4 separate regions of the Homo sapiens genome follow, and all the other regions are linked to region 4. The links come from fine-mapping of genetic effects on gene expression. A gene starts in region 4. Each other region holds a variant in brackets. All regions are shown on one strand. Distances are from middle to middle. Region 1 overlaps LARP4B (La ribonucleoprotein 4B). Region 2 overlaps LARP4B (La ribonucleoprotein 4B). Region 3 overlaps LARP4B (La ribonucleoprotein 4B). Region 4 holds the start of LARP4B (La ribonucleoprotein 4B).

Region 1 (7,340 bases), 87 kb before region 4:
CCCTGGATCGCCTATGGGCAGGTGGGCTCTGTTAAGCAAGCACACAGAGCAATTTAATATCCTCATGGTTGGTGGAAACGACCCCTTGCCAGTAACAATCAACTGAGAAATCATCCCAGTGGGGCAGCAGCGTTTGCAAGGTCTGTCCGAAAAGGAATAACTAAACCTGAAACTCCTAATCATAACCAAAAAGACTTCAGAGTACAAACAGGGACAAGAATGCTGCTGGCCTTTCAAAGATGGGGCCCAATTCAGCTGGCACAGACAACAGCTTCTGTTCTGCATGATGACACCAGGGAGCACGGCGCCATCCTGGGAGACAGCAGTGCCGCTCTCAGAACTCACAGTCAATGGTAATTATGTTTGTCAGTTTTTTCACTGTCTCCAATAATTTAATAACCCATGCTATTTGTCTAAAAACAGAAAAACATAAAACTTTTATTTTATATTTTATTTGTGAAAAGAAAATCCAACTAAGTTCTCATGTAAGATGCTCACTTTTTTATACTACTGTAAAGTCAAATTCATACAAGAAAAAAAAAAAACCTGCACAGACTGTCGTCAGTACAGATAAGCCAGGGACAACGTGAAAACCCTTCTATGTGAGTATAGGCAGTGGACTTAATTGAGACTTGAAGTCAGGCTTAGCAATGTCCAATCACTCAAAACTATGTAGGGGCACCATCCACACTTAATGCTTAAACACTGTTTGATGTTGCCAAACTTCAAAGAAACAACTTCACTCACAACATAATTTTTTTTTTTTTTTATGAGATGGAGTCTATCTCTGTCGCCAGGCTGGAGTGCAATGGCACAATCTCAGCTAACTGCAACCTCCGCCTCCTGGGTTCAAGTGATTTCCCTGCCTCAGCCTCTCAAGTACCTGGGATTACAAGCACACACCACCACGCCCAGCTAATTTTTTGTATTTTAGTGGAGACAGGGTTTCACCATGTTGGCCAAGACAGTCTCAATCTCCTGACCTCATGATCCGCCCAACTCGACCTCCAAAAGTGCTGGGATTACACGCGTAAGCCACCACACCTGGCCCACAACATAATTTTAAGAAAAATTGCAATAATTATTTCATCCGAACATAAACAGGAAGTTGCAATTTGAAAGAAAAACCTCTAGTGGTAAAACTGTAACTAAAGTGTATTTTACTTTAACTATAAATGTTATTTTTATTTTGTTTTTCATGAATGAAACAGCTATCTTTAAAATCCCCATTAACAAGATTCTTTTCTACTTCATATGTCCCAAAACTTGTTTGAGGTTTCATAACGGGTTCAACTGGCATTCCCAGGGACTATCAGGCGCTACTCCAGAATTATTGGACCTGGGCAGAAAGGAACGGAAGGCCAGAAAAGAATCTGATTCGCCATCAAGGACCTTAACGTTTGATGGCTATAGATTTAAAGGTTCATGCTGATAAGACAAATACTCTAAGGACAAGTATTATTAATTTAAATTGTCATTTACTTACATCTTAGCACTTCCACAATCAAGTCCACATCAGTGCTGAGCTTCTTGATGTGGTCGAGGTTAGCCACCGTTGTGATTGGCACATACTGGTCACTATCCATCTGTGATATAAGATACATGTCACTAGCAAGGTTCTCCCTGTTGAAAGAAAACAATCTCTTTTAATCAGTATTTCTTTAAAAGGAAGTTTCACCTACTGTAATTCCAGTTTCACAAGAGGCGTGAGTGTGGCATGGTATTGCTTTGGAGTTAAATCTCAGCCCAGGACCCATCTGTTATTTGCTGTCTCTCCAGCCTCAGGTACATTTTTGCAAAATCTCGGCCTTGGAGAGGCAGGGAGTGCAAAAGTAAAAGTATACTGTACTTTCTACAATCAAAATTTATGAGAAGATGGTTATTTTTAAATAAGATGTAATTATTTATAGCTGTCATTTTTGTCCTAAGAAGTAGCTTAAGAGTTTATTAAAAATGCATACAATTTTGTTAGGCCGGGCACGGTGGCTCACGCCTGGAATCCCAGCACTTTGGGGGGCCAAGGTAGGCAGATCATCTGGGTTCAGGAGTTTAAGACCAGCCTGACCAACATGGTGAAACCCCATCTCTACTAAAAATACAAAAATTAGCCAGGCATGGTGGCGGGCACCTGTAATCCCAGCTACTCGGGAGGCTCAGGCAGGAGAATCGCTTGAACCCGAGAGGTGGAGGTTACAGTGAGCCAAGATCACACCACTGCACTCTAGCCTGGGCGACAAGAGTGAAACTCTGACTCAAAAAAAAAGAAAGAAAAACAATTTAAAGTAAAGAAATCCAGCTCAATGAACAAGAAAGGAAAACATAAAAAGGCCAGGATAAGGTCATACCCAAAATTCCTCCTGTAGACTCTGGAACACTCACCAGAGGGCCTATATCCAGCCCTGGCTTCCTAGCAGCCAGAATTAAAAAGAAGGAAACAGTAACTTTACCCACAAAATCCAAAGGTGAGCCACAAATCATCAGCAGTTTGGGCCATGATGAGCTATTTTCTGGTGTTTTGGCCAAAGATCAATGTTTCCTGTGAATTCTCAAGGCATCATGTAATGTAGTGAACAAGGCCCTAAGAAACATTTCAAAACTGAGCACAGTGCTGGGTTCCTGGGGCCTCTGCTCAGTGTCCCTCGGTGAAGGCCCATGACTGCCGATCAAACGGAGGCCATGCAGGAGGAGGCCCTGCTCCACCCTCATCTCGGCCATCTTCCAGGTGTAGCTGATTCTGGCCCCATGGGGCTACACATGGATGTGAGTGGCAGAGAGCTCACACTTGTGCTCCACTAGGGCGTTCCACTGGTGCCCCTGCACCTTTTGCGTCTACCATGTCATGGTGCGGTATTCTCAGACTCCAATCGTGGAACAGCATGGGCATGGGGAGGAGGCCAGCAGAGCCCCTCACACCTCCACCTCATACACCCCACAGGCTTCAAGGAGCCCCTAGCAGACACCTGTGTGGAATCCTCAGGGCTCCAGAGAAAACACCTGGAAAATCATCATCGACAGAAAACCTTATACACGGCCCATCGGTTGTTGTCATACTCAGAGAAATTACATCAAACCCAATCCCATCCTCCTTTATGTCCAGTTCTGCCATTGGAACTTTAAAGGTTTTACTAAGAAAAGGGTATTATTCAGGGGAAAGAAAAATGATTAAAAATGAGTGTTATATAAATAAAACAACTTGCT[A/G]TCTCAGTGTCTGGTGTGCTTTCAGAAACAACGTGGCACACTTGTTCTCCAACTTCAGTGTGAGGAAGTCTGACTCGGCAGCACAGGGCGGGCGGGGCACTTTAGACGCATTCCAGACAGTGACCACCGAGACCACTGGGGACCACAGACATGAAGGTTACGTTCCATGCTCAAATGTCAAAAGACTGTCATTACTCAATATTCCACGTCTTCATATACATATATATGGATATGAGTAGATACTCCTTCATAAAATATCACATTTGTATATACTTTAACTATTTGCACAATACTAGAAATATCAGGTACTAGAAAAACCACCACCAGCCTTACCTAGATAAGCAGAATTCCAATGTTTTTTTAAGTACTTCTCGGGGGTCTTCCTGGCTGTCTGGTTGAGACTCATTTCCTCCTACATAAAAGTAATAATCAACTTAGGAAAACCGGCTTAAAATTTAGGAAGCAGATAATTCAGTACAGCAGTTCTAATGCTTTCAACTTACGTTCTGACACAACTACGTAAGTGTATCCTAAGTAAGAAAAATGCTACTTTACCTATCAAAAAAGTAAATCATGCAAAAAAACCTATCCCTTTATCCCCCAAAACAAAAACAGCACAGTTTAGAAAAATAATCTAAGTCTCATTAGCAGAGTTCAGCAGGGGCTTTTTCTACCAGAAATGACAAGTGTAAGCTTAGTTAATGCCTTGTCTCACTGCAAAAAGAATTTTCAAGTAACCTACACAAACACAAACCCTAAACAATAATAAAATACAGAGGAAAAAATTAAAACAACAACAACAAAGATAACCAGCAAAAAACCAAGGCTGGAGATCAAACAGGCTCTAGGACTAGACAGTTTCTACAACAGAGGCTTCAATTTGCCTTCCAACTTCCAGAGTCGAAGGAACAAGTGAGAATTGTCATGTTACAGAATTCCTGTAAGAGAATGATAAATAAACCAGATCTTCAAGAGGAAACAAAAGCTGGTTCTAAATCCTGGAAGAAATTTCTAAGAAGATGCCAGAGGGCATGGTGTGTGTGGTCACAGGCAGCACAGGGCTGTGAATTTGGAGCTCTAGAAGACACTGCATAAACTGCTGGACTCCGGACACTGCATAAAGAGGTATTTTAATAATGTTGCGATGACAGGCACTGAAATGCTAAGAACTAAGTTTTTCCTGCCTTCCTATATAAATTAGCATGGTACAATCATATAAGAGCCATGCTAACACAAGAGACACTTGTATCTTAAAAGTCAAAGTTAAAGACCATGAAAAGGCAAAGACAAAGTGGGGCGTTCAGGACAAATGAGAGGGATAGAGAGTTTGTATGGTGTTATACAATGAGCTTAGTAAAAATCCACCCCCATCAGCAAAAAGAAACCAAAACTGCTAAAGTAACCATAACACAAAACCAAATCATGGGACTCAATGAGACTGAAAATGGAAAATTGAAAACACAACCTGATGCCACTGTCCATCTAGACTAAGGTGTCTCCGGGTCACTCATCTAAATTCACACTCCACTCCCCATGTTTAATAGGTATTTACTAAATATTTCCAAGTGCCAGGCACTACTGCAGGCTCTGTGAATTCAGCCTGAATAACGCAAAGCCTGTGCTCTCGTGAAGCCAACACTCTGGTGGGAGAGGCAGATAACAGACAGTTAACCAGTAACTATACACATCATGTCAGAGAGAAACGGACACTGAGGAAACAACCCAGGATGAGGGGCAGCAAGGCCTGGTGCCATCCAGACAGGAAGTGCCATATGATCTGATAGAGGAGGGGTGGGGCACACAGGAAGGTGGGAAGTGTGTTCTAAATGGGGAGCCTCAAGCACAGGGGTCCCAAGGTGGGGCCTCTCAAGGGGTAGAGTCCAGCAGTAGGAGGCCAGCACAGCTGAGAAGAGGGGTGACAGACACAGTAAGAAATGAGGTCACAGAGGCCGGTGTGTGTGAGTGAGATCAAGGAGGACGTTAAAGTAACCTAAACGTAATAGAAAATCAATTCAAGGCTGACATTTTGAAAATATCTCTCTGGTTCCATGGTGTAGACAGACTGTGCAGGCACCAGCCGGAAGATAATGCAATCACTGAGGACAGGGCACTAGGGAGGACTCTCCAAGCGATAGGTGGTGCCGAAGCCACAAGGGAAGGAAGAAAAGCAGCCCAGGACTGAACCCGGGACACTCCCACCTTCAGCAGGAGGCAAGCGCATGAGGGCCAAGGGACACAGGCTCACAGCCAGCAAGGTGGGAAGACCACTAGGATACTGTGAAGTTAGGAGCCAAGAGAATCATCCACTATAACATGACACAGTAGAGCCAGGTAAGTTAAGAAGTTGAAACTAACTACTAGATCTGGCTGCACCAGGGTCATTAAAGAGCTCGACAAATGCTGCTTAGGACAACTGTCTACCTGGACTGGACTCAAGAGGGAATGGAAGCAAGGAGACCTGGACTGCACTCAAGAGGGAATGGAAGCAAGGAGATGGGACAGCAAGCAGACAGCTGAAGTGTTCTACAGTGGAAGATGGGCTGCCCGGGGTGGCTTCACCTAAGATGAGAGATAATACCACCTTAGAAAGATGGGGAGTGACCCAACCATGCAAGAAACACCCGGCACTGCAGACAGAGGACACTGAGGAGCAAAGACAATGACAAGTGAGACGGGCTCTCAGGGAGACTGGAGGTTGGGCACATGGTGTTGGTAAGACACAGGCCATCTGCCTCCAGGTAGATGGAGTCACAGGGGCTAGGTTAACTTTCCCTTTAAAACCACCAAGAAACCAAATAAGACAGATGAAATGACAGTTTTCCAGATGTGGGACATAGAGCAACAAAGGACATAGATTCCTATGTGACATGAAACTTTTTTCTTTTTTTTTTTTGAGACGGAGCCTTGCTCTGTCACCCAGACTGGAGTGCAGTAGCGCGATCTTGCAACCTTGGCTCACTGCAACCTCCACCTCCCGGGTTCAAGTGATTCTCCTACCTCAGCCTCCTGAGTAGCGGGGATTACAGGCGCACACCACCAGGCCCAGCTAATTTTTTTTGGTATTTTTAGTAGAGACAGGGTTTCACCATGTTGGTCAGGCTGGTCTCGAACTCCTGCCCTCGTGATCTGCCCACCTCAGCCTCCCAAAGTGCTGGGATTCCAGGCGTGAGCCACCGTGCCCAGCTTGACATGAGACATTAAAGTAACCCCCACAAGTCCAGCCCACTGCCCTGAGGGAAGTCCCAGGCTGTGCCCAGGGAGTGGGAAGTCAGGTGGGAACCCAGTGTATGGCTGTGTGGAAGAGAAAAAGAGAATGCAGGAGATAGGGAGGCTGATTGCATAGGCCAGACAGCAGGAGGAGCTCCAGAGAACCACAGGGCCCAGGACCCATCACGTTGTCAGCCAGGTTCTTTGCAAAGCACGGATGTGATGAAACTACCCAAGGCTCGTGGAAGAACCACCTGAGGGGATCAGAAGTATAACAATATATGTCATTCACGTGCAGAGCCTGAAATGGTTAACCCTCCCCACCAGAAACTCTTGTGATTCCCGGAGCCCTGCCTCGGTGATAGGAACAGGCCCCACACAGCACCGTCCCACTCACACCTAACATCTTAAAAACAAGATATGAAAGGATCACACTGTTTCCAAGAAACCTGGCTGCATCCCAGAACAAATATCAAATATTTAAAGAAATACAAAAATACTAAGCCCTGAATACAGTAAAACTCAATCTAACCAAAAATTACCATGCATGCAAAGAAAGAAGCAGGAAGATATGACCCATGACAATGAGAAGTATCAACCAACAGAAGCCAATCCAGAACTGACACAGATGTTAAAATTAACTGAAAAGGATGTTAAAAGTTATCATAACTGTATTCCATATGTTCACGAAGTCAGGTAAGGACATAAAAGTTATTAAAAAAAAAAAAGAAAAAACTTATAGAGATGAAAACTCCAATGTCTGATATTAAAAATACTTGATGAGATTAACAACAGGGTAAACATTACAGCAGACTCGGGAACCTGAAGACACAGTAACAGAAGCTTCCCAAAATCAAACAGAAAAATGAGAAGCACAACCAGCTGAGAGGATCAGCAAGCTGCGGACAACATCGAGCAGCTGAGCTCAAGTGTAA
Region 2 (7,340 bases), 110 kb before region 4:
GCCTGAGACCCTGAAGAGGTGTGCTTCCCCCAGCTGATCCTAACAGTAGCTCCACCAAGGCAGCCACCTGGCGCCTGGGGCTCCTCATGCCATTCAACCCAGCTGGGCCGTGCCCTGCCATGGCCGCCATGCAAGGGTAGGGACATGTGTCTGGACTCTGGTAAGGGGTTCTCCAGGACATCTTAGCACTTTGGTCCAATAGAGAAAGTTAATGGAAACAAAACAAACCCTCCCAAAAAGGGGAGGTGGAGGCATGGCTGCTGTGGATCAGGTTCTCAGGGCAAGCAAGGCCTGGCACACCTCCCTGCAAAACAGCACAAGCTCTTTCTCAAGACAGAGGGAAGGAGGAGGTTACGAAGGTCAGCTCTGGCTTCAGAACCCATCGCAGAAACAGGCTGCAGGAGTTGCATGCGCTTTCCCTGCCCACCACTTCCTAAACCACTCCCTAAACCACTGGTGCGTGCTTCCTAAACCACTCCCTGCCCACCGTGCCCATGCTGGTGTGCGCTTCCTAAACCACTCCCTGCCGCAGTGCTCAGGTCTCAGGTGGGAGGACAGTTGTCCTCCCTTGGTGGGGAGAGAGAGGGTCTCCATTGGTGCAAGATCTGCATCTGTCAGGCAAAAGCATAAACTTGTTACAGTTGCATTTGGAAGTTCAAGTATTGTTGAAGGGTATCCTGGGTAGACCACATTCGTCAGCAAGCTTTGGACTCTCAGCTTCAAAGCCACCTGTATACATTTTGTGAGGTAGCTGGAATTCAACAAGCCCCACTTTCATTTGCCAGGAAACTCCTTGTGACGCTCGTATGAACAAGGCACACTGAAGAGCACAGGAGGCTGAGGCCGGGGGGCCTTGTCCATCTAGTCTGCCTCCTTCCACACCGTGCCCACAATTGATGCCCCTCAGAGGGAGCCACATGGCCTTGATGAGTAGGGCTCTGTCCCAAGTCTGAGCCCCAGCTCTGCAACCCTCCTCCCTCCAAGCGTCTGGGTCTTAAGAACCCCAAACTGAGACCCAGGGCTAGCAACTGCTCCCTGAAGTCACTGACTCTCCATGACACGGTGGGCCCCTTTTGGCTTTGCATCTCCAAGGCCTGTTGAGCCAACCTGATGCCATGTTTCCTGTGAGACACAGGCCAGTGCCAGCTCTCCCAGACCATGGTGCCTTCCAATGCCACTGCACAATCCCTGCAGGAACTCCTATGTGCTCATTGAATCATTATGGGCAGGAATGAGATGCTTCTGATGCCTCTTCATGTTGAATTCTCACTGCACAGAGGGTGTGCACTGTGGCAGGCAGGAAGAGGAGCTTGCACGTCAGGGATGGTGCTGTACACATTGTATATAGAACACCCTGAAAAAGCTCAGGTATTTGAGTCACTTGTTTGTCACTTATGAGAGGAAAATCCTGACGGTCCTTACCAAGGCAAGGACTGAGAAGATCAACTGGCCTTATCAACAATGGGCAGGTGCGGTGGCTCATGCCTGTAATCCCACCACTATGGAAGGCTGAGGCAGGAGGATGGCTCTAGGCCAGGAGTTCAAGACCAGCCTGGGCAACACAGCGAGATCCTGTCTCTACAAAATATTTAAAAACTAGCCAGGCATGGTGGTGTGCATTTGAAGTCCTAGCTTCTCAGCATGCTGAGGCAATAGGATTGCTTGAACCCAGAAGTTCAAGGCTGTAGTGAGCCATGATCATGCCAACGTACCCCAGCCTGGGCAACGGAGTGAGACCCTGTCTTAAAAACAAACAAACAAACAAACAAACAAACAAAAACCTACTACAGGATTGATGCCAAAAAAATGTTAAACAAAACCAAAAATGGTGGGCAGGAAGCACAGCTAAGACCCGTCCTGGCTAGTCTCAACCCTCCAATGAGATGAGACTGCAATGCTGATCTGCCTGGTTACCCGCTCCAGGCTCCACCTGCAGTGCCTGGTGCACACCCAGCTGGAGGGCGCCAGGCCAGCAGCCATGGGGCAGAGCCTGGACACCGCCCTTGCAGAGGGGCCTGGTGAGCCAGGGGTGCTGCCAAGAGGAGACTGCAGGCACATGGGATGGAGTCTATGGCTATTGAGCTCCAGTGTTTCTACAAATAATGATCTAAAACAACTACAGTTCTCACTGAACCATTTCATATTCCAAAAAAGATGAAGCCATTTAAGTCTTAGCAATTATATAAAACCCTTATGTTTATAGCCTTCAGTTAGATTTTCTGTGACATATTTAAAGACAATTACAAAACATATCTAAATTAAATAATTTTTAAAATATTAGTTTATGATGTTACACAGTAACTGCTCAACAACTCACCTTCCCCTCCCTAAACCAGGAGAGGATTCGAGACTGCCTGGCTCCACACGCCCAGGCCCAGCCTCTCTCTTGGCATATGCTGAAGGGTTTTGAATCCGTGTTCTAGTTTGACCTGCTTGCCTTGTTTGTGGACTCCGGACACCATTAATTAATCGATCTGCAGTGAAGTTAAATATTGAAGGACTTTCTAATAACCCAGGTCCCCTCTCTGCACTAGGAATCGCATGCCGCAGATGAGATTTACTAGGATTCCTGTAAATAAAAATGGTTTTATGTGTTGAGTTATAAAATGATCAAGGCATTACATAACATGCATACTGACATGGAATAGCTAAGCTGAAATCTGCTCTCTGTTTAATAAAGTATAAAAATAGGATTTGGAATGGTTAACTCCTAACATATAGGATAATGCAAATCTATTAACAATGTGCCACAATTCTGCTTAGCTGTTTTTCAGTCCAGGCCCAAATTAAAATCAGGCACACCTGATGTGTACAAGTTGCCCCAAAGCCTCCTCTCAGAGAATCTGAGGCGGGCACCCATGCCAGATTGTAGTGCTTAGTCTTTACAGAATGCAGCTGTGTGCTTCAGGTGGCTCTGTCTGCGAGGAGCAGGACTAGTGATCAAAGCTCTCTCATCCCAACTCCGGAAGGGCAGTAGCGTAAAGACCAAAACTGCTAAGACCGCCCCGGAACTTGCCTGCTTCGAGGAGGATACTGTCTGAGAGAAGTCAGAGGAGACGCCGCAGGCTTGAACGCTGGAGACGTAAACCCATTTATAAATCCAGTATTTGGAAATGGAGTTACCTAGATTCATTTGAAAACAGACAAGTAAATAAACCATAAAACAGACTTCAATTTCATTAATACCAACAAATCTGTGGAAACTGAGGGCATTTCTTGATGTTGTCAGAGTCATGACCCATGCTGAGACATGTATTTTACAATTTTATCACCAATGGGTGCTGTTTAGAAGTAGGCTGGAGCTTTTGTGCATCCTTTCAGCCAATCCTTACAACAATCCAGCGAGGAGAACTGACACATGCGGAAGCAGGCACTGAGAGGAAAGACGTGGTCAAGAGCGCATGGGCTCCAACAAGTGTTGTAACCTTTAGCATGTCAGTCTGATACGACCTCCATCACTGGCAGGAAGTCAACAGTTCTTGATTCCTGATGGCTTTAATACAACTCATCAACATTCTCAATCTTAGGAGCACCTGCACACCCACTGCTGCTCACTCGGCTTCATCCAACCACAGCCTGACAGGGCCTTTACCTTTACCCCGACACAAGTCCTGCTCTGCAGATCAGGGTATTTTCAGATCATCATTATTCCCCAAGTCACAAGGTAAGTATGGCATGCAAATATACTAACATAAGATTCAGAAGAAATTAGAAAGGGTCACAGAACCCCTAAAAGATCTTAAGTAGTTAAAAATATTGAGCATAGAATTTTAAGTATCGGCCAACTATTTTTAAAATCTAGACACATACAAAAATAAGATAAAACTTATTGTTAAAACAGTTCCTTTAAAAACAAACAAACAAACAAAACTCAAGACCATTCATTCTAATTCTCTGGCTTCTGGACCCATGGTTTCCAATACGTTCTGCATCACTGATATCTCGCTCCTTATGCTCCTGACACAGGGCACTTAGTTCCTGAGGGCCTTCCAGTCCACACCCTCAATGTCACTAAAGTGACAGAGATACGCATAGAGCCCTCCTTGTTTGGAGGAA[G/A]AGAGAAAGGAAAGGAAAAAAGCAAGTAATTCTCCTTAATTAGAGCTAACTGGAAGATATAACAGAAAAAGAATATTATAGCTTAGGACTAAAATAAAATCATACAAAAGGGAAGTTAGAATCTTCAATTTGCTACTTGAGAAACTCTTCACTCTGTAAGAATCGGACTTTTTAAAATACATCACACATGGCCGGGCGCAGTGGCTCATGCCTATAACCCCAGCACTTTGGGAGGCCAAGGGGGGGCGGATCAAAAGGTCAGGAGATCAAGACCATCCTGGCTAACATGGTGAAACCCCGTCTCTACTAAAAATACAAAAAAATTATCCGGGCGTAGTGGCGGGCGCCTGTAGTCCCAGCTACTCAAGAGGCTGAGGCAGGAGAATGGCGTGAACCCGGGAGGCGGAGCTTGCAGTGAGCCAAGATCCGGCCACTGCACTCCAGCCTGGGCGACAGAGAGAGACTCTGTCTCAAAGAAAAAGAAAATACATCACACTTGAAGAGCCATGAATGCAGACCTGGATCTGAGGCTGTAAATCATGGGCAGAGCAATGAGGACTAATCATTTCCAGCAAGTCATTTTACAGACAGAGCCCTGATATTCCAGTAATTTTGCTCAAGATAAAAAATAAAATTGGTCATATATAAAAAATAAAGTTGATTATTAATGCGTTCCTATTATTACTTGTTGGGGATTAATAGGCACAATCTCTTCAGCTGCAGAACAAAGGACGCACATGTTTTAGCACAAGTAAAAGGCTGCGATGGAGAGCCCCAGTATCACAGACTCAGAGCAGGACCAGCTGTCTGGCACACACCGCAACCTGAACATACAACATAAGTCAAGGCCATAAGCTGACCCAGAACCCCAAGGATCCCCGAGAGGGTCAACCATGATTAAAGAAACGGAAGAAGCAACTGCTGCAGGAAGAACTGAAAGGACTAGCATGGCAAGCCACGTGCAGCGATGATTCTTCAACACCCAGAGCCTACGGACTCAAGTCTCTCTGAGGTTCTCTCATGATATGCTTTTGGGAAAACGAAGTATTCAGCTATGGGTACACTTTTATAGAATGTGCTACTTCAAAAAGCCAGAAACTTTTCTTACCATCAGGACTTACTCAAAAGAGACAGAAGTAACTTTACCAAAGGTTCTTACACTGCGGTGGTTCCAGACTCAGGGGGAATTGGGGTCCTCTGAAAATCTCTCCCTGTCCCCACCTGCCCTTCACACGGCCTTAGGAGCTATTTTCTAAATGGAGTATGGTTTCATTTCTCCGCTTAGAAACCTCAGACACCTTCCCACAAGCACTAGGCCAAAGCCCACATGCCTCAGGACAGCTAAGCACCTGCGCAGTTAGGCCTGGAAACTGCCAGCTCGTTCCCCAACTCCCTGCCACCCGGTGTACGCTTCAGCTCAGACACCCATGAATCTACGACCATCTTCTGTTCATGAAACTTCTCTTTGATTCCTTCTGAAAAACTCATACTTAACCTGAAAAGCTCAACCTAGATGACAACACAATCCCTGATAAGACCTGTCAGTGTTCTGGCATTCTGTACACGTGTCTCCTTGGCATGTTTGACTTTTCCAGCCTGAGTTGTTTCATGGACCCGTATCTTTACTTTCCGTGTATACAGGCACTTGTTTTCTCAAGTTCTCTCTGCTCTGCACCTACCCTCCTTTTCTGCCTGTCAGCGGTGACATCCCTGCACATCAGGGTGCCTGGCTCCCAGCCATCCGACCCTGAGGACCACTCAGTCTTTCCCTTAGTCCACAGCGAAACCCTGGACATGAACTCTTCTCAAAGTTACTAACTCAATTTCTGCTTTCTGACCATAACCTTCTATGTATGCTACCCTTCAATCTCTCCAATTCCAACTAACCTGCATTGCTACCTCATGCAAACCTCTAGGCCATGAACCCATCTTCACTTCTCAACTAGACTTCAGCTTCAAGGACATGCTCATCCGTGTATTGCTGACTCTCGTGCATCCAATGCCACCAAACTCATGCTAATTCCCACCCAGAATGCACTTGATCTTTCAAGCATCTATAGCAGCACACAAAGAGACAATGTCTAGATCCAGTACAGACTTATGAATTCCAACCATAGGCCTTAACAAAGGCCAAAATCCATAAAAATTAATCCTGTCGACCAACTCTAATGCTGGTGAGAAGTGAGTAAAATAAGGCTGGTAAAACAGCAGGCCTTCTCCTTGGCCTTGCTGTCAGAAGCCTATTAAACACCTCTTCCTCCTCAGTTAATCCCCCTTGCATTGTACTCTGTGTAGGGGACGCCAGGTACACTACAGCACTTATCGCCCTCTGCGTCTTGCTAAGAGCTGCATGACAAGAGGGGAGACGGGCTGTGCAAGGATTGTGCTCACAGCAATCCAAAGTTCTTTATGCATAAGCTCTGTTCTCAGCTACATTTAAAATCCCCCACATAACTTGAAGGTCTGTTTTAGTATGTCAGACTGCACACATATCTGGCTTCCTATTAGATGAGGATTTTAATCCTTCAAATTATCTAGCATAGTGTCTACAACATAAATTCCTAGTAAAGAAATGACGTACCAAGGGTGGGTCAAGATAGCTGTGCGTTGCTGACCACGTCTGGGGAGTGATCAGGCTGTACAGGGGGAACTGCTGCTGGGGGCTGTACATGGGAGGGAAGTAGAACGACGTCGCGTAGCGCTGCTGGGCATACAGGCTCACGTCCAGGGGTCTAAATCCATTCTTTGGCAAAAATGTGTTTATAGCTATTGCCTTTGCTTTTATCCGTGCCTGTTTGAAAATATGTAAGTTTCTATTAGAATACTTAAGAACATCAATTTGCAAATAAACAAAGTATAACCAATGGTCTTGCTTACCTTAATTGGTTTTCCTTGAAAAGTTTTGACTTCTTCTCGAAGGTATTTGTAAGCCTAAGGGCAAAATTAAGTACAAAATTCCATTCGATTAACCTTATGAATAAGAGGCACCAATAGTTCACTCAATAGCTCAAATAGGGAAATATATAATTAAATTATGGTGAACAGAACCTAGAATAATGATTCTTGACACTCCCTGGGTCACAGATCCCTTAAAATAACCTCATAAGAGCTATGGAACGTGTACCCCAAATTCTCACAAACAAGATTTGTACACAATTTTGTAAGTATTAACAGATGCCATAGAAGTCTCCCAAAGACCACTGGCTAAGAACCTTGACCTGGTGGAAAATGATGAATACTGAGTTCCTAGTATTCATCCCAATTTCAGATTAGGAGAATGCAGT
Region 3 (7,340 bases), 120 kb before region 4:
TTCGGGCTCGAATGGCATCTAAACAGGGCAGGAAATACCTCCTCCTGCCAAAGCAGAGGTCAGGCGGGCGAAGGACACGAGGGTGGGGCCATCTGTTCAGGAAACGAAGGCGGCTTCTCCTGGAGACGTGGAGGGTCCACCTAGGTTCCTGCTGTCTAGACGGGTAGGGCCCATGATCCCCACCTCTCCACACCTCCCATCGGCTGTCCTGCCCTGTCCTGTCTGTGCACAGAAGGGAGGTGTGGGCACCGAGGCGGTCCTGGGCTGGGAGCATGCTCTGGCCTTTCTCACCTTGAAGCTCCTCGGGGCTCTGCACTAGCAGCCCACGAGATGTGCATGTTTCTAGGACAGGTGGCCCCTTAGACTCTGCCACGCAGGGCCCCTCCCAACTTGAGTCACTGGCAGGGCACCCCCCAGCTCACTCTGTGCCCTCTGCAGGCTCAGCCCTGCTGGGAGGGAGGGCCAGTCCTGTGCAGAGGGGCCACGCCACCTTCCCTCCCATTCGTGGCCAGTGGGAGTGAACACAGGGTTGGTGGGTGAGCCGCCTGTAGTTTAGAAGGAAGAAGCAAAAAATTTAACAAACTTGAAATGTAAAAATCATGATTTTTACAGAAATACTATGTTCTTAAAGCATTTAAGATGGTGAGCTCTGCCACCATTTTTTCATGTTTTTTATTTTACATTTAGGTTTGAGGTTTTCATTGTCATCATTAAGTTTCAGTATATTTTCTGCAGTCATCCACAAAAATGGGTCAGTAGCACAAAAGTGTTTCATCAGAACATAAATGTAACATAAATATTAGCTGGAACCATATAAAGTTGCTACTTGCTCACTTTGACCTCTAAAAACAGTAATTTCATCTGGCATGACCAAATACAACTGTAAGTAACATGTATGTTTACAAGCAAAGCTGACTGGGCTCTCCAAGCCACAGGGACAGCAAGATGAAGTTTGCAGGATGCAGCTGGTGACGATCACTCAGGGCATCTCTGAAAGTGGCTCTCCTGCGGCAGGGCCACCCACCCGGGAGGTCACAGCCGGGGTCACACGGAGCTGCAGGGTGGGGCGGGCTCTGCCTCTGCCGCTCCAGTGCGACAGCAGAGCAGCAGGCATGATGTGACACAGATGAGCCCGGCCCTGGCTCCTCAGGGAGGACCCTGTAGACCTACGCCGGGGATGGTGGGTGCCCTGAGGAAGGGTAACCTCCCCAGCAGGTCCCTCCACCAGGCGCCACCCTGAGGTCTCTGGCTGCCAACGGGGCGGGACCGCCTGAGTTTCTAATAGGAAGGATGAGGTCAAAATATGTATCCTGGGCAGTGACAGGCGTTTTTGCAGCAAGGAGAAAACCTCCGAGATGCCTTCCCAGCCTTAGGATACCACAAACCCACTGTCCACAGGGCGGGTTTTGCACAGAAGTACCAGTGTCTCACACCTCAAGCTGTGCCGATTCTCCTCACCCGGGGAAAATGCTTACTTAAATGCTTCTTTACAACTGCTCTTGTCAAGGGTACCATAAAACTCTGTGTTCAGAATCTGGAAGCTGATGGCTTCCCATGGCCTAAGTGGGTGTTGGTGACATCCCCGGCGTGCGGCGTGGCTGGAGCCCCTGAACCCTGGCTGCGGCCACGTCCTCCTGTCACTTTGGGCTCCTCTGGCTAAAAGAGGAACCCTGCCTCTCCTCTCCCGGGCTCCTCTCTCCCCGCCTCTCCAGCTTGCAGTGTCAACACCACGAACCCACGTGAGCTCCACCCTGGGCTTGCTCTATGTTGATGGTTTCTTTCCCGCCCTCCCCCGTCTCCCAGGTGGCCGGGGGCTCTTCCCATCCCTCCTGACCTTTCCCTCTAGGTTTACTTCCTATGAGGCAGCTCCAGAGCCTCGGAGGGGCGGCTGGAGGTCGAGGGCGCGTGGGGGGCCTGGAGGGTGCAGGGGACGCCGAGGGCGCGGGGCCCAACCTCCGGCCAGCCGCCTGGATTCTGGTCTCTGCTCTGAGCGAGGTGCGTGGGTGCCTCCCTGCTTTTGAGCGGGGATGCAAAGGACCCCCGGGCTGCTGCGCGGAAAAAGGCGGACGGGGATCCAGGGCGCAAGCAGGGATGGAGGGAGAGGCCGACACAGACGGCGGCAGGTGTGCGTGGTGAGGCCGCCCCACGCAGGGATGGGAGGGGCGCGCAAGCCGGGACTTGAACCTGCACTGGCTGAGCTGTGGACGCGGCCTGGCGGCCTCTGCGGAGCGCCCTCTGCGGAGCTGCCTCTGGCACCTGTCCACAGCGTCTGGACACCGGGCGAGGAATGGACCCGGAAGCGTCCCCTGCCCAGGGGGTGCTGCAGGTACCCAGGGGAAGAGCATTCACGGGTGCCAGGCCCAAGGGGCTCACGCCAGAAGTAGACCAATTAGACGACTACAAACGGTGCTCAGTGCTGCAGAAGCAGCCGGGGACAGGCGGCTGTCGGAGAGGGCGCCAGGCATCTCTGGGAAGGGAGAAACAAATTCCACGGGAAGGGGCCAGCAGGTCCCAGGCAGCATGGGCAGAGAGTGTGGGGTCAGGGATGAAGTTGCAGGTGGGTTGGGGAGTGACTTGCAGGCGCGCGTCTAAACCTTATTTCTTCCTGCAGGAAACCATTGGAGCGTTTAAAGCAAGGGAACAGGGCGCGCTCACTACCACAAAAGAACCCTCGGGCTAGGTGGAGAACGGGGCAGGGAGACTGGCGACGAGATGGCCGGGCTGGACTCTCGGAAGGATCTGGGGAAGAACCAAGACTGGCCCAGGATTTGGGCTTGCCTGTCTGCGTCGGGGCTGCCCGTGGAGATGGGGTTCCGGTGAGGAGCAGGAGGATCCAGGCCGGAGGGTGGGTGGTCCCATCTGAAATGTGGACTGACTGCAGGTGGCCACGCCAAGGACACAGTGAGACATGGGCTGGAGGCTGAGCAGGCTGGGGCTGAGGAGCTCGAATGTACTGAGTGGACGTATTAGTTACCCCTTCTTTCTTAATGGCCCCAATTTTGTTCAGGGACCCCTCTCTCCAGTCACCATGCACCTTGGGGGAGGTGGCCCCACTCCTGAGCCCAGGATGGACCTCACTGACCTGAAAGCCCCTTCCCCGTGACGGCGTTTGGATCCTAAATCTAGCCAGTAAGATGTGCAATTTACTGGCAACTTGTTTCCTTATTCCCAAAGCCACACAAAAAGAAACTCGTCTCCCCACCCCCACCCCGAGGTTAAGATGTCTGGCTGCAACACTCCCAGCTGCCGCACACTCCTGCTGCCTGCCAAGGACGCTGCCACCACGGTGGCCCGGCCCGACAGCAGCATGGAGCTCTGCCTTCCTCTGCAGGGGACAGTACATTGCACCTGCCCCCGGGCCCAG[G/A]CTGCGGCCTCTGTGCTTCCAGGCTGATGGATTTCAGCTGGCATGGAAAGTGCGGCATTGCACGAAGTAGAAAGGTGTGGGCCTGGAAGAAACTACCCAGTAGCAAAGGGCAGACACTGAAGAGGGCACTGCCCCCACTGGCCTCAGGAAACGGGAGGCGCAGCAGCAGGAGAAGGTCAACTGGGAGCTGAGAGCACGAGAGGACTGAGAATTGGCAAATTACAATCTCCAGGAAGGCAAAGAGAAAAAAGAAACAGAGCAGCAGGGAAGAGAAAGGGCAGATGTAATTGGTCCATACGCAACAGTTAGAAGACTGAGGCTGGCAGAGTGGATTACAAACACCCACCACTCCGTGCTGTCCACAGACAACTCCCTTCAGACAGGGCACAGGCGGGCTAAAAGTCAAAGGATGAAAAACGGCACGTTACACCGACAGGAGTGAAAAAGAAAGAGCTGGAATGCCTTTGTTACTGTCAAAACTTCAGAGCAAAGACAATTACTTGGGTCCAGGGTCCTAATGACAGATCAGTCCAACGAGAAGACACGGTGATCCTAAATGTGCATGCGTGGAGTATGTCCCGTTAGGACAGGGGTGAGGAACAGGCTGCGGCTGCCCACACTTGTAAGCGCCCCACATTTCTGCACGCGTAGCTAACGTTAGAGAGAGTCTTTCTATACACTCACATCCTATGTAGTAAACACAGTGAGCTTCGGCTGGGAAAAGCGGCTGCTCCGGCCGAGGAAATCCTGGTCGTGAATGAAAATGCATCTCTGTGGGCCCTCACAGGCCCACGCAGAGGTGAATGAATTTGGCTGTCTTCTGCATCTGCATCTCCTGGACGCTCACTGATCTGCCCCAGGGCCTGGTGGTTGCTGTCCCAGCTTGGTCCTGCAAGCCCCTCTGGGTGGAGCTGCTCACCCCGTGCTCCGGGGCTCACGCCTGCAGGGAGGCCCAGCCTGTATCAGGATCCTCTTCACAACCTCCTGACCCCACCGGGCGGCCCTGCGGCCCTCCAGCTCCACCAGGGCAGGGCTAAGCCTCTCCGGCTGGCCTGGCATATATGCTCCGAGACATCACACACTTGGATATGGCCTGGGCTGACATAAGTTCCATAAGCACCTGAAGGCTGGTGCACGAGGGTCTCTGGCTAAGCCACTGCACGCTTAGGCTGTGCCCTTCCTTCCTGGCCTATGGTCTCACCTGCTGTCCCTCCTCTCCGTGGTGGAGACACCCACACACCTTCGTCTAAGCAGACCAGCAGTTGACTTGGATCGGAAACGGCTTGTGCCCAAGCAGGCCCAGCAACACACGTGGTCCTTCTTCAGTTGGTTCAATCCAATGCTTTAGAGAAACACGGGATTTTAGCATTATTAAAAGATGTGGATATAGCAAGGAATGGAATACAACAACTTCAGACTTTGGTGGGTGGAGGCGGAATACGTAAACCTCTGACAGCCATGAGGAGACCGAGCCCTGGCTCTCTTGTGGGACCTGCTGACCCCAGCAGAGCCCTGCAGACAATCCACAGATACACGGTGGTCACTTCCATCCAGGGAGTTCTGGCAGGGTTTGTTATGTGGCAACAGCAAGTCAATACCTCATCCTAGTTCTTCCCAGGGCAGTGCTGTGCACAGAGAAGACACAAAATATACTTCGAGTTAATACACATTTACCGAGTATCTGCTAATTTGCAGATGGCGTGCTAAGGACAAGGGAGAGGCTGGTGATCCAGATGGCATAATTCCTGCCCTCAGGGAGCACAGTTAATCATACTTTGATGAGTTCTATGAAGGAAATTCTCAGCAACACAGGATGACGGGTGAGTTAAATGCTATGGTGTTAGGACAGAAAGGGAAATAGGCAGTGTAGAATAGAGACCCTAGAGACCCCAGGTGGAGATCCATGCACACGTGGGAAGTCTGCAAGTAACAGAAGCAGCACTGCAGACCAGTGGAGAGACAGTGAACTCACTGGTGATACTGGAAAAAGAAACTTTCCACATGGCATAAAGTAAAACTGGGTTCCTGCCTAAGCACGCACACCACACACACGATTAGGCCCAGCTGGATTAAAAGCGTGTGTGTGTGTGTGTGCGTGTGCACGCACACACACACACACACGCACACATACACACACACTATTAACTTTATGACCCTGGAGTAGGGAAAGGCTTCTTAAGCAAGTCCAAGACACTCAACAAAGGAGAAGATTGATAGATTTTACTACACAATAATTAAACACCGTAAAAGATACTATTCTAAATAAAGAGTTAAGACAAATGGTAGATTGAAAGAAAATATTTGTAACATATATGACAAAGGATTAATAGCCTTAACAGATCAAGAATATTAATTCCATCAGAAAAAGAGTAAAAATGGGAAGACGACATGAAAAGGCAATGCACAGAGGAGGAAGGCAGCAACATGTTAATCAGTCCCCCATCCACTCGGTGCCTGGCACAGGAGGGGCCCCGCCTCCCGCCAGCCTCTTCCTAGTGCAGACATCACTGCTGCCTAAGGATGAGTCCATCACCATGAAGACCCAACGTTAGCTCCAAACAGCTTCATGGACACAGCTTTGGAGAGAGTGCCATTTTAACAAAATCAAAGTCCTGATACAGGAACATGTATTTTTGCAGTACATCTTGGCAGTCACAGTAATGGCTGTCTCCGCATGAGCATCTGATGTTAATGCTCACTCTGAACCACTAAAACACAAAGGGTGAGCCCCGTGTGCCACAGCCAGCCCCCACGTAGGTGAGAAGGCTTTAGGATCCAATCATATATGAGGCCCGTGTTTCTTTCTCATGCACTTATGGGAACAGACAAAAAACTATGTTTAGAAAAGATGCATTATTGAAGAAATTTTAATTTAAAAAAAATCAAAAGAAAAATTGAACAGTGCCTAAATCTTTATTTTCATAACCTACATTTTTTTTCAAATTAGACAGTTTTACACTGAATGACACAAAAGGAAACTTAAATTACCAATAGTTTACATGTAAGCTTGATTCCAGTCTTAATGAAGCAGAACAAAAACGAAACCCTCGAGGAGCGACCACATGACCCCCGCGCTGTGAGCTGCTGGCGGCCAGCGCCCTCGCCTCGATTGTCTGCAGCCCTGTAGTGGGCCGCGAGGCACGCAAGCCGCAACTACAGCTCGCCAGCGGGGCACACAGACAGGCATGCACCACCACTACCCGTCGCCCGGATACACTGAACTGGTTTTGAAGCCTGAACTGCAGAGATCCTAATATAGCAACGCAGGACGTTTACGGCCACCCGCCAGTGACAGCCGGTGATGTGATGACAGGAGGGCCTGGGTGAAAATGTCAAGACACTCACTCTCAGAGAACGACGACTCCACTTGAAATTCATGTCTGGTGAAACGGGACCAGGTTTTTATTCTTCTATTTCAAAATGATAAGCATCATCACACGATTTTACAAGTTAAAATGCCATTTGTCACTGCTGCATCTCTGATTCTATAACCTGAGATACTGCTGGGGGTAAAGGAGGGTGTTAACTTAAAAAAAAAAAAAGTATGAAAGCCACTCTCATCGCTGTATGTGACACAGCACAGTTGGCATGGACCGCCACAGCTTCCTATTATGATAACTCTCATTTTCTTCTGAGCAGAAACTCTTGAAGTAGTATCAGGTTTTTTCAGACATTATATAGCAATCTGTATTTCACCTTTAATTAAAAAGGATGCTATAAAAATCACCTCCGAGCAACGTTTCAGTTCTTGATGCAGAAGACTGCTGCTGGCTAGGCAGTAACTACAGTGTATTGACCGGAGGGCAGCAGAGCCCTCCAGTGGCGACTGGCTAATGCACGCGCTGCCCTCCTCATGCAGCTGTTGAGCTCCCACTTCGGTCGACAAAGTGAAGGACTAAGCTGGCTCTAACCACACACACACACTGCGCTGCAATGCTCACACCTTGGGGGAAAGGACTTCTCATTATTAAAAACC
Region 4 (7,340 bases):
GCTGAGGCAGGAGAATCACCTGAACCCGAGAGGCGGAGGATGCAGTGAGCCAAGAACGCACCATTGCACTCCAGCTTGGGCGACAAGAGTGAAAGTCCGCCTCAGGAAAGAAAAAAAAAAAAAAACTTGTACCTTTAACACTAGGATAAAAACAAATGAAATCGATTGATGGTAACACATCTATACAGCTTTTTTACAACTTTGAGAGGCCCTAACATAGACAACACGTTACTAAGATTAGAAGACCTAGATTATAATCCTAGCTATCACTATTTTGACGGAAAATATGAATTTTAACATGACAATGAAATAACAGTGAAAGGAGTTTGTCAGCCACTCCTTGGCTGGTAACATCTACCATAGCCTATCACTACAAAAACTTGCAAATCTATGTAGAGTAGCTGCAGCTACCTGAAGGCACTGTTCATTGTAAACACCATTAACAATTTGATGTCCCAATTTGCATGTTTTGGGGGTGGGGGGAGACAAGGTCTCACTGTTGTCCAGGATGGAGTGCAGTGGCAGGATCATGGCTCACTGCAGCCTCAACCTCCCAAGCTCAAGCGATCTTCCCACTTCAGCTTCTCCAACAGCTGGACTACAGGTGTGAGCCACCATGCCTGGCTAATTTTTTGATTTTTTGGTAGAGATGAGGTCTCTCTATGTTGCCCAGGCTGGTGAACTCCTGGGCTCCTAAACTCACCTAGGCCTCCCAAAGTGCTGGGATTACAGGAATGAGCCACCTCACCCAGCCTGCACGTATTTTAGAACTACATTTTAAGATAATGTGAAGACTGCTTCATAAAAACACCTTAAATATATACTTGTCAAAACTTGTGCTTACTTATGGAAATTGCATTAAATTCAATAAATTCTTTAAATCTCACTTTTAAAAATGGCAATCTTCCCGAACATTAAACCAAATTACATTTCTCCCTGAATTTGCTGCCACTTAATTTCAGCTACTCTTCTACAGAATAGTACCCATGTTATCTTTTTTTCTGTCTGGTTCCTACTCAAAAAGAGTGGAACTGCTTTCTCCAAATATGCATTCTGTGCTCAGAAGCTGTTTTCTCTGCCCAGATACATGTGTAAACAAGCCAAAAAAAACAAAACAAAAAAACAAAAACAAAAACAAAACTTTCTGCTAATAGATTGACAGCTACAAGGTAGAATATTTTAAAAATTCAGTAAGCTGGGCGCAGTGGCTCACTCCTGTAATCCCAACACTTTGAGAGGCCAAGGCAGGTGGATCACTTGAGGCCAGGAGTTCGAGACCAGCCTGGGCAACATGCTGAAACCCCGTCTCTACTAAAAATACAAAAATTAGCCAGGTGTGGTGGCATGTGCCTGTAAATCCCAGCTACTCGGGGGGCTGAGGCAGGAGAATAACTTGAAGACCTAGGAGGTGGAGGTTGTAGTGAGTTGAGATCGTGTCACTGCACTCCATCCTGGGTGACAGAACAAGACTCCAACTCGGGGGGGGAAGAAAAAAATCAGTAATAGTGAAAATAGCAAAACCAGACAACATTTCCATGTTTGTGTTACAACAGTCCTAAGAAAATGAGATTATCATCATCCCCCTGTTACAATTGAGAAAATGTAGGCAACACGAGGGTAACTTCTAATGAATAAGCCATGCCTTTGTTTCATATAAATAAGTCAACTCAACTCACATTAACTTTTCAAAATACCGGATAAAATTTATTTCTAACCAATGCAAGTTTCAAAGATAAGTACACAAATTAAATTTATGATTAAATAATAAGCTTGTTAATCTGATGCCTTTCGGAACGCATTTCACTTAGCAAACCTCAATTAAGCTATTTCTTATATGGTTTGATTACAAAACTGCCTTTCAGCATATTAAATACAAGGAGAAAAAACTGAAAAGCCACAACGATTTCAACTTCTGTAAATTACCCTGACTGTAATGAGGGGCGCCAGGCAGGTTGGGGAAGTATGGAAATTGCACACTGCACACACCACCTGACCACCAAGAAAAAAGAGGACACCACTCTTCCCCACTGTGGTCTTCACAAACTACAACTCAGCACCTATTTCAAGTGCATTTAAATATTCAAACAACTGAAACTAAGAGAAAAAAACTTTCGAAAGGGAAAATAACTTGTCTGTCCCCTTCAATGTTCACCTTGGAGTTGCTCTCATCTCTAGAAAAAGGCCTCACGCATACTGTTTATACTTACAAACTCCACTGCCCTGTCAAGGAAAACCTTCCTGTTTTCTCAGTTATCCAAAACTTCAAACTTCCAATTTACTATTAAGACAAGTTATTGGGCATCCACTTAGAGAATCTCAAACGAAAGCCAGATAGGAGGTAGTTTTCTACAGCTAGGTTTCTCAAGTTTCATCTCAGCCAAGTTTTAAGAACGTTTTACGTAAAAATAAGGGGAAAAGCAAAATTACATTCGCATGAAGTTTCGACGCACAACGGCACTGAAACGGAAAGACTCTTCACGTTCCCAAGCGCACCCTGAGAGGCAGGTGCAGCAGCTTTCCGATGGCTTCTCTGCCGCCCATGTATCCCAGCCCCAAGACCAACACAGGCAATCTTCACATCTGACTTTATTTTTTTAACTCCTTCAGATCCACCTCTGCTCAAGTCTATCAACAGGAAAACAGGAGCGTTCCAAACACACACCGAGCAACAGGATCCCAACTTCCTGGTTCTAAAGGAATGCGATGCCCTGATGACCCGTCCCGCCCCGCACCCGCACGGCCGCCTATCCGGGCTCCGGCGGGACCGAGGAGCGAGTGGCAAGGCTGGCGCCGCACTGCGGGTGCCGGCGCCCGCCCGGCCTGGGGGCGCTCGCGGCCCGCGACCCCGGCCCCGCCCAGGCCCTGCCCGACCCCCGTCCTCGCCGGCCTTCGCCCAACCCCGGCCTCCCGACCCTGACCCCGGCCCGGTCTTCCGGGCACCCAGCTCCGTCGACTCCCGCCTCGCCTCAACGGGTCCTCCTAAGCCCCGGCCCCGGCCTTCCCCTGCCCCGGCCTCGGCCATCCTCAGCCCCAGTTTTCCCCTGCCCCGGCCCCGGTCCTCCTCAGCCCCGGCTTTTTCCTGGCCCTGACCCCGGTCCTCCTCAGCCCTGGCCCTTCCCGTGCCCTAGCCCCGGTCCTCCTCAACCCGGCCCCGGCCTTCCCCTGCCCCGGCCCCGGCCCCGGCCCAGGCCCGGCCCTGCCCGCCGCGGCCGCGTCCTCCGGGAAGATGGCGGCGCAGTGACAGGCGGCGCGGCGCGGGTCCGAGCTGGGCCGGGAGGGACGGCCCGCCGCGGCCCAGGGTGCCTCACCTGTCAGCGCCGCCGCCCCGCCCGACCGGCCGCCCGCGGGCTCCTCGCCTCAACCCCGGGGCCCGGCGGCCGCGCCACACGCGGGGACGGCGAGGAGAGAGACGGCAGGGAGAGGCGGCGCGGCCGGGCCGGGCCGGGCCGGAGGTAGGGGAGAGGGCGGGCGCGAGCTGGCGGCGGCGGCGGCGGCGGATTCTTCCCCTTTCGGGCCCGAAAATGTCTCAACCCCGGGACTCCAGATCCCCAACGCTCCTTCCCGTTCGCATGAGAACACACAGCTCCCACTTCCGGGGCCCTGCGGAAGTCCCGCCCCCGCGCGGACCCGCGCCTCGCGCCCTGAACTCGCGCACTCACCCGCCGGTCCCGCGGACTGGCGCTCAGCCCCGGGAGAGCCTCACGTCATGGTGTTGCGGCGCGCTGATTGGGCGCACCCGACGCTCGGCCCGCCCCGCCGCCTTCTTGGCCTCTCCGCGCGTACACCCTGCTCGCGGCCTTGCGATTGGCGCGTGCGCGCACATCGCCCCGCCCCGCGCACGCCGCACGTCCGCCCCGCCCGCCCCGCCCGCCCCGCCCGCCGTCCCCGGCGCGACCGGAGCGCCTGACGCTGGGGGGCCGTGTGGGCCCTGACTTCCGGAGGGCTGGGCCCTGGTCCTCCGCCACCGCGTGCGCCCCTTAAAGACCCCTGCCCGCCGCCCAGGACGGATGGCGACCCCGGCCCTAGCCTGTCCCCAGACCCTGGACCAAGGCCCCGGCCCTGCCCCGAACCCCTCATCCCACCCCCAGGACCCAGGCCCCGACCCTGGCCACCCAGGACACGCCCTGGCCCTTCCCCGAACTCCCACCCCACAGCTGGGATCAAGGTCCCGGCCCTGCCCGGAACACCTCACCCCACACCCGGGACCCAGGCCCCGGCCCTGCCCCGAACTCCCACCCCACACCCGGGACCAAGGCCCCGGCCCTGCCCCGAACCCCTCACCCCACCCCCGGGACCAAGGCCCCGGCCCTGCCCAGAACTCCCACCCCACACCCGGGACCAAGGCCCCGGCCCTGCCCAGAACTCCCACCCCACACCCGGGACCAAGGCCCCGGCCCTGCCCCGAAGGCCCCACCGGGGACCCAGGCCCCGGCCCTGCCCCAAACTCCCACCCCACACCCGGGACCAAGGCCCCGGCCCTGCCCCGAACGCCCCACCCGGGACCCAGGCCCCGGCCCTGCCCCAAACTCCCACCCCACACCCGGGACCAAGGCCCCGGCACTGCCCCGAACGCCCCACCAGGGACCCAGGCCCCAGCCCTGTCCCGAACTCCCGCCCCACACCTGAGACGAAGGTCCCGGCCCCGAAGTCCCAACCCCACACCCGGGACCAAGGCCCCGGCACTGCCCCGAACCCCCGCCCCACACCCCTAACCAAGGCCTCGGCTCAGCCCCGGAATCCCCAACCCCACACCTGGGATCAAGGCCCCGGCCCTTCCCCAAACCCCCAACCCACACCCGGGACCAAAAGGCCCCGGCCCCACGTTTCCTAGAGGCGCTGGGTTCGGGCCCACGTTGCAACGAGTCAGATGCTCTTGGTAGCTCAGGGAGGTGTTCACACTCCTGCCGTTTCCGTGAGGATGGTGACGACTCCGAACTATAGCAGCATACTCTACCTACCCCTGATCAGTTTATGGAAGAAAAGGAAACCAAACAAAGTATGTTGCGTTTCCCTTAAGCTTGCTGCCTGATTTTCTGGTTTCTGCTCTGATTGGCTACATATACACATATTATCAATTATTCCAAATTTTAGGTTTGTTCCCCCATTAAAACGGCTTTTCAGGGATACCATATTCATGGTTAACCGTGTACCTGTGCTTACAACTGCTTTTTTAATTTTGTTTTTTGATACAGGGTCTTGCTCTATGCAGGTCTGCACTCTGAGCTCAGAGTGCTGTCTCGGGCCCCCAAAATCTGGGATTAGAGATGGGAGCCGGTGTACCCAGCCTGTGCTTATAATTTTTCGTACTCAGCGTTCAAATGCTGACAATTCTGCATTTTGGAAGAAAGCCTCTCCGGCTTCCCATAGTGGGTAGACTGTTGACATCAAGGTTGGGTGCCTTCTTTGTGAAACCTTGTTGCATCCTAGCTTTAAGGGAATTTGCAAGTTAAATAATTATATTCATAGTAATGTTTTTAAAGAACATTTAACGACATAAGACACATTTCCTTTAATATTAAAAGCATGTACATATTTCAGAAAACTTGCTTACCTGGACAACCTGCCCTGACCAGTAGGCCATAGTGTCCTTGCTTAGGTGCCTGGTTCCTTTACCTCCACGGATAACCTACAGGAGCTTACTCTTGGTTCATAACATTGCTAGGGCCATTGATGTGGTATAAGTCTAGGAATTCTGCCCCAAAATTGGTAGGTTAAACTTTTTTTTTTTTTTGAGACTGACTCTCCCTCTGTCACCCCGGCTGGAGTGCCGTGGCATAATCTCGGCTCACTGCAACCTCAGTCTCCCGGGTTCAAGTGATTCTCCTGCCTCAGCCTCCGGAGTAGCTGAGACTACAGCCGCATGCCACCACGCCCAGCTAATTTTTTGTATTTTTAGTAGAGATGGGGTTTCACCGTGTTAGCCAGAATGGTCTTGATCTCCTGACCTCGTGATCCGCCTGCCTCAGCCTCCCTAAGTGCTGGGATTACAGGCGTGAGCCACCGTTCCCGGCTGGTAGGTTAAACTTCAATCTTTTTTGTCTATGTCTACATTCCAGCAGACATCTATGTCTTACCTATTACAAAAGAAAGTAATGGGATGGGTTCAGTGGCTCATGCCTGTAATCCCAGCACTTTAGGAGGCCAAGGCAGGCAGATCGCCCAAGGCCAAGAGTTCAAGACCAGTCTGGGCAATATGTCAAAGCCCCATTTCTTTAAAAAATTATACAAAAGTAGCCGGGCATGTGGTGCATGGCTGTGGTTCCAGCTACTCAGGAGGCTGAGGTGGGAGGATCGCTTGAGGTTGAGGCTGCAGTGAGCTGTGATTGTGCCACCGCATTCCAGCCTGGGTGACAGAGCGAGACCCTGTCTCAAAAAAAGAAAAAGAAAAAAACTAAAACTAAAAGAATTCCATCTCTTCTTTCTCTTCGTATTGTGTAATCCTTTCCAACAATCAGAACTGGGCTTTTTGTTCCCTCATGATCTTCTTTTTTTCAAACCTGTGTCTCAGAAGAAACATCCATTTTCACCTTGAGATGTGAGGTTATAACATGAAATACATTTTCATGGCATCTCTCCTTAGACAAGATCAGTTTTTTAAAACTTTAGTATAAATTTCTCAAACCATGATCAGATACACTCCCTCATTTCCCATGTCAAGTGGTTACAAATTCTGTCAATCCTACCTAAAAACTCTTTCCTTCTCCCCGTCCCCCCAGTGGTTTTGCCGTTGTTACTGCTCACCTGGTTTGATTCAGTGGCGTCGCGGTTGGTCTCTGCTACAGTCCATTACTCACAGTGCCAGCACATGTTTCCTTAAAAAGCTTCATCACCATCCTCCTGCAATGCGACCTTCACCGGCTCCCCGTTGCCTGCCCAGGAGGATAAAGTCCAAGTTCTCCTGTGGAAAGAAGACCCTTCACACGCTAGTCCCAGCCTGTCTTCAGCCCAGCCCCCTGTGTTTCCTTTCCTGCCTTATCCTAAGACATCCTTACCTTCCAATCACACTCACTTTCCGAGCATTTTTGAAGGTATTGAGGGAGTTGATGAGTCTACACTTGAATAAAATACAGACTTTACACTCCAGACTGCACAGTTGACAGGTAAGTCCACAGTTCATAGTGTGGACAGTCCTATACAAAGAAATGGAGAGGTGCCCCAGCTCCAGACGCTGCGCTGCTCTGGAAGTCGAGGGCGGCATTCTTTTGGAGCCTGAGCACTTAGGTCCTAATGGATGTGAGTCCCCTGGCCTCAAATGTGCTTCCTGTACTTGGATGTCTCCTTCTGGCGGAATCTCGCTTATTTTTCAAGTTACAGCCCAAATGTCAACCACTGAAGTGTTT

Evidence for each region.
Region 1: its variant is fine-mapped to the expression of LARP4B in whole blood (TOPMed, PIP above 0.99).
Region 2: its variant is fine-mapped to the expression of LARP4B in whole blood (TOPMed, PIP above 0.99).
Region 3: its variant is fine-mapped to the expression of LARP4B in whole blood (TOPMed, PIP above 0.99).

Annotation. Positions count from the first base shown.
Region 1 is chr10:841,446-848,785 of GRCh38, forward strand. LARP4B (La ribonucleoprotein 4B) reads right to left here. Exons shown (of 18, transcript NM_015155.3): 6 at 3,532-3,610; 7 at 1,487-1,623. Among named protein-coding and RNA genes, the nearest start is that of LARP4B, 87 kb to the right of the region's middle. The variant A/G (reference allele first, on the strand shown) is at 3,199.
Region 2 is chr10:822,748-830,087 of GRCh38, forward strand. It overlaps LARP4B (La ribonucleoprotein 4B), which reads right to left. Exons shown (of 18, transcript NM_015155.3): 10 at 6,934-6,987; 11 at 6,638-6,847; 12 at 3,017-3,123; 13 at 2,318-2,569. Among named protein-coding and RNA genes, the nearest start is that of LARP4B, 110 kb to the right of the region's middle. The variant G/A (reference allele first, on the strand shown) is at 4,057.
Region 3 is chr10:803,284-810,623 of GRCh38, forward strand. It overlaps LARP4B (La ribonucleoprotein 4B), which reads right to left. Exons shown (of 18, transcript NM_015155.3): 18 at 6,214-7,340. Among named protein-coding and RNA genes, the nearest start is that of DIP2C, 120 kb to the left of the region's middle. RefSeq lists enhancers at 6,011-6,511, 6,512-7,012 and a silencer at 6,069-6,274. The variant G/A (reference allele first, on the strand shown) is at 3,365.
Region 4 is chr10:928,120-935,459 of GRCh38, forward strand. It overlaps LARP4B (La ribonucleoprotein 4B), which reads right to left and starts at 3,586. Exons shown (of 18, transcript NM_015155.3): 1 at 3,309-3,586. LOC124902363 (keratinocyte proline-rich protein-like) reads left to right here and starts at 3,872. Exons shown (of 2, transcript XM_047426111.1): 1 at 3,872-4,996; 2 at 6,717-7,340. The coding sequence starts at 4,008. The coding sequence ends at 4,712. LARP4B-DT (LARP4B divergent transcript) reads left to right here and starts at 4,907. Exons shown (of 3, transcript NR_120629.1): 1 at 4,907-4,996. RefSeq lists silencers at 2,777-2,906, 2,997-3,076, 3,107-3,216, 3,287-3,996, 4,077-4,166.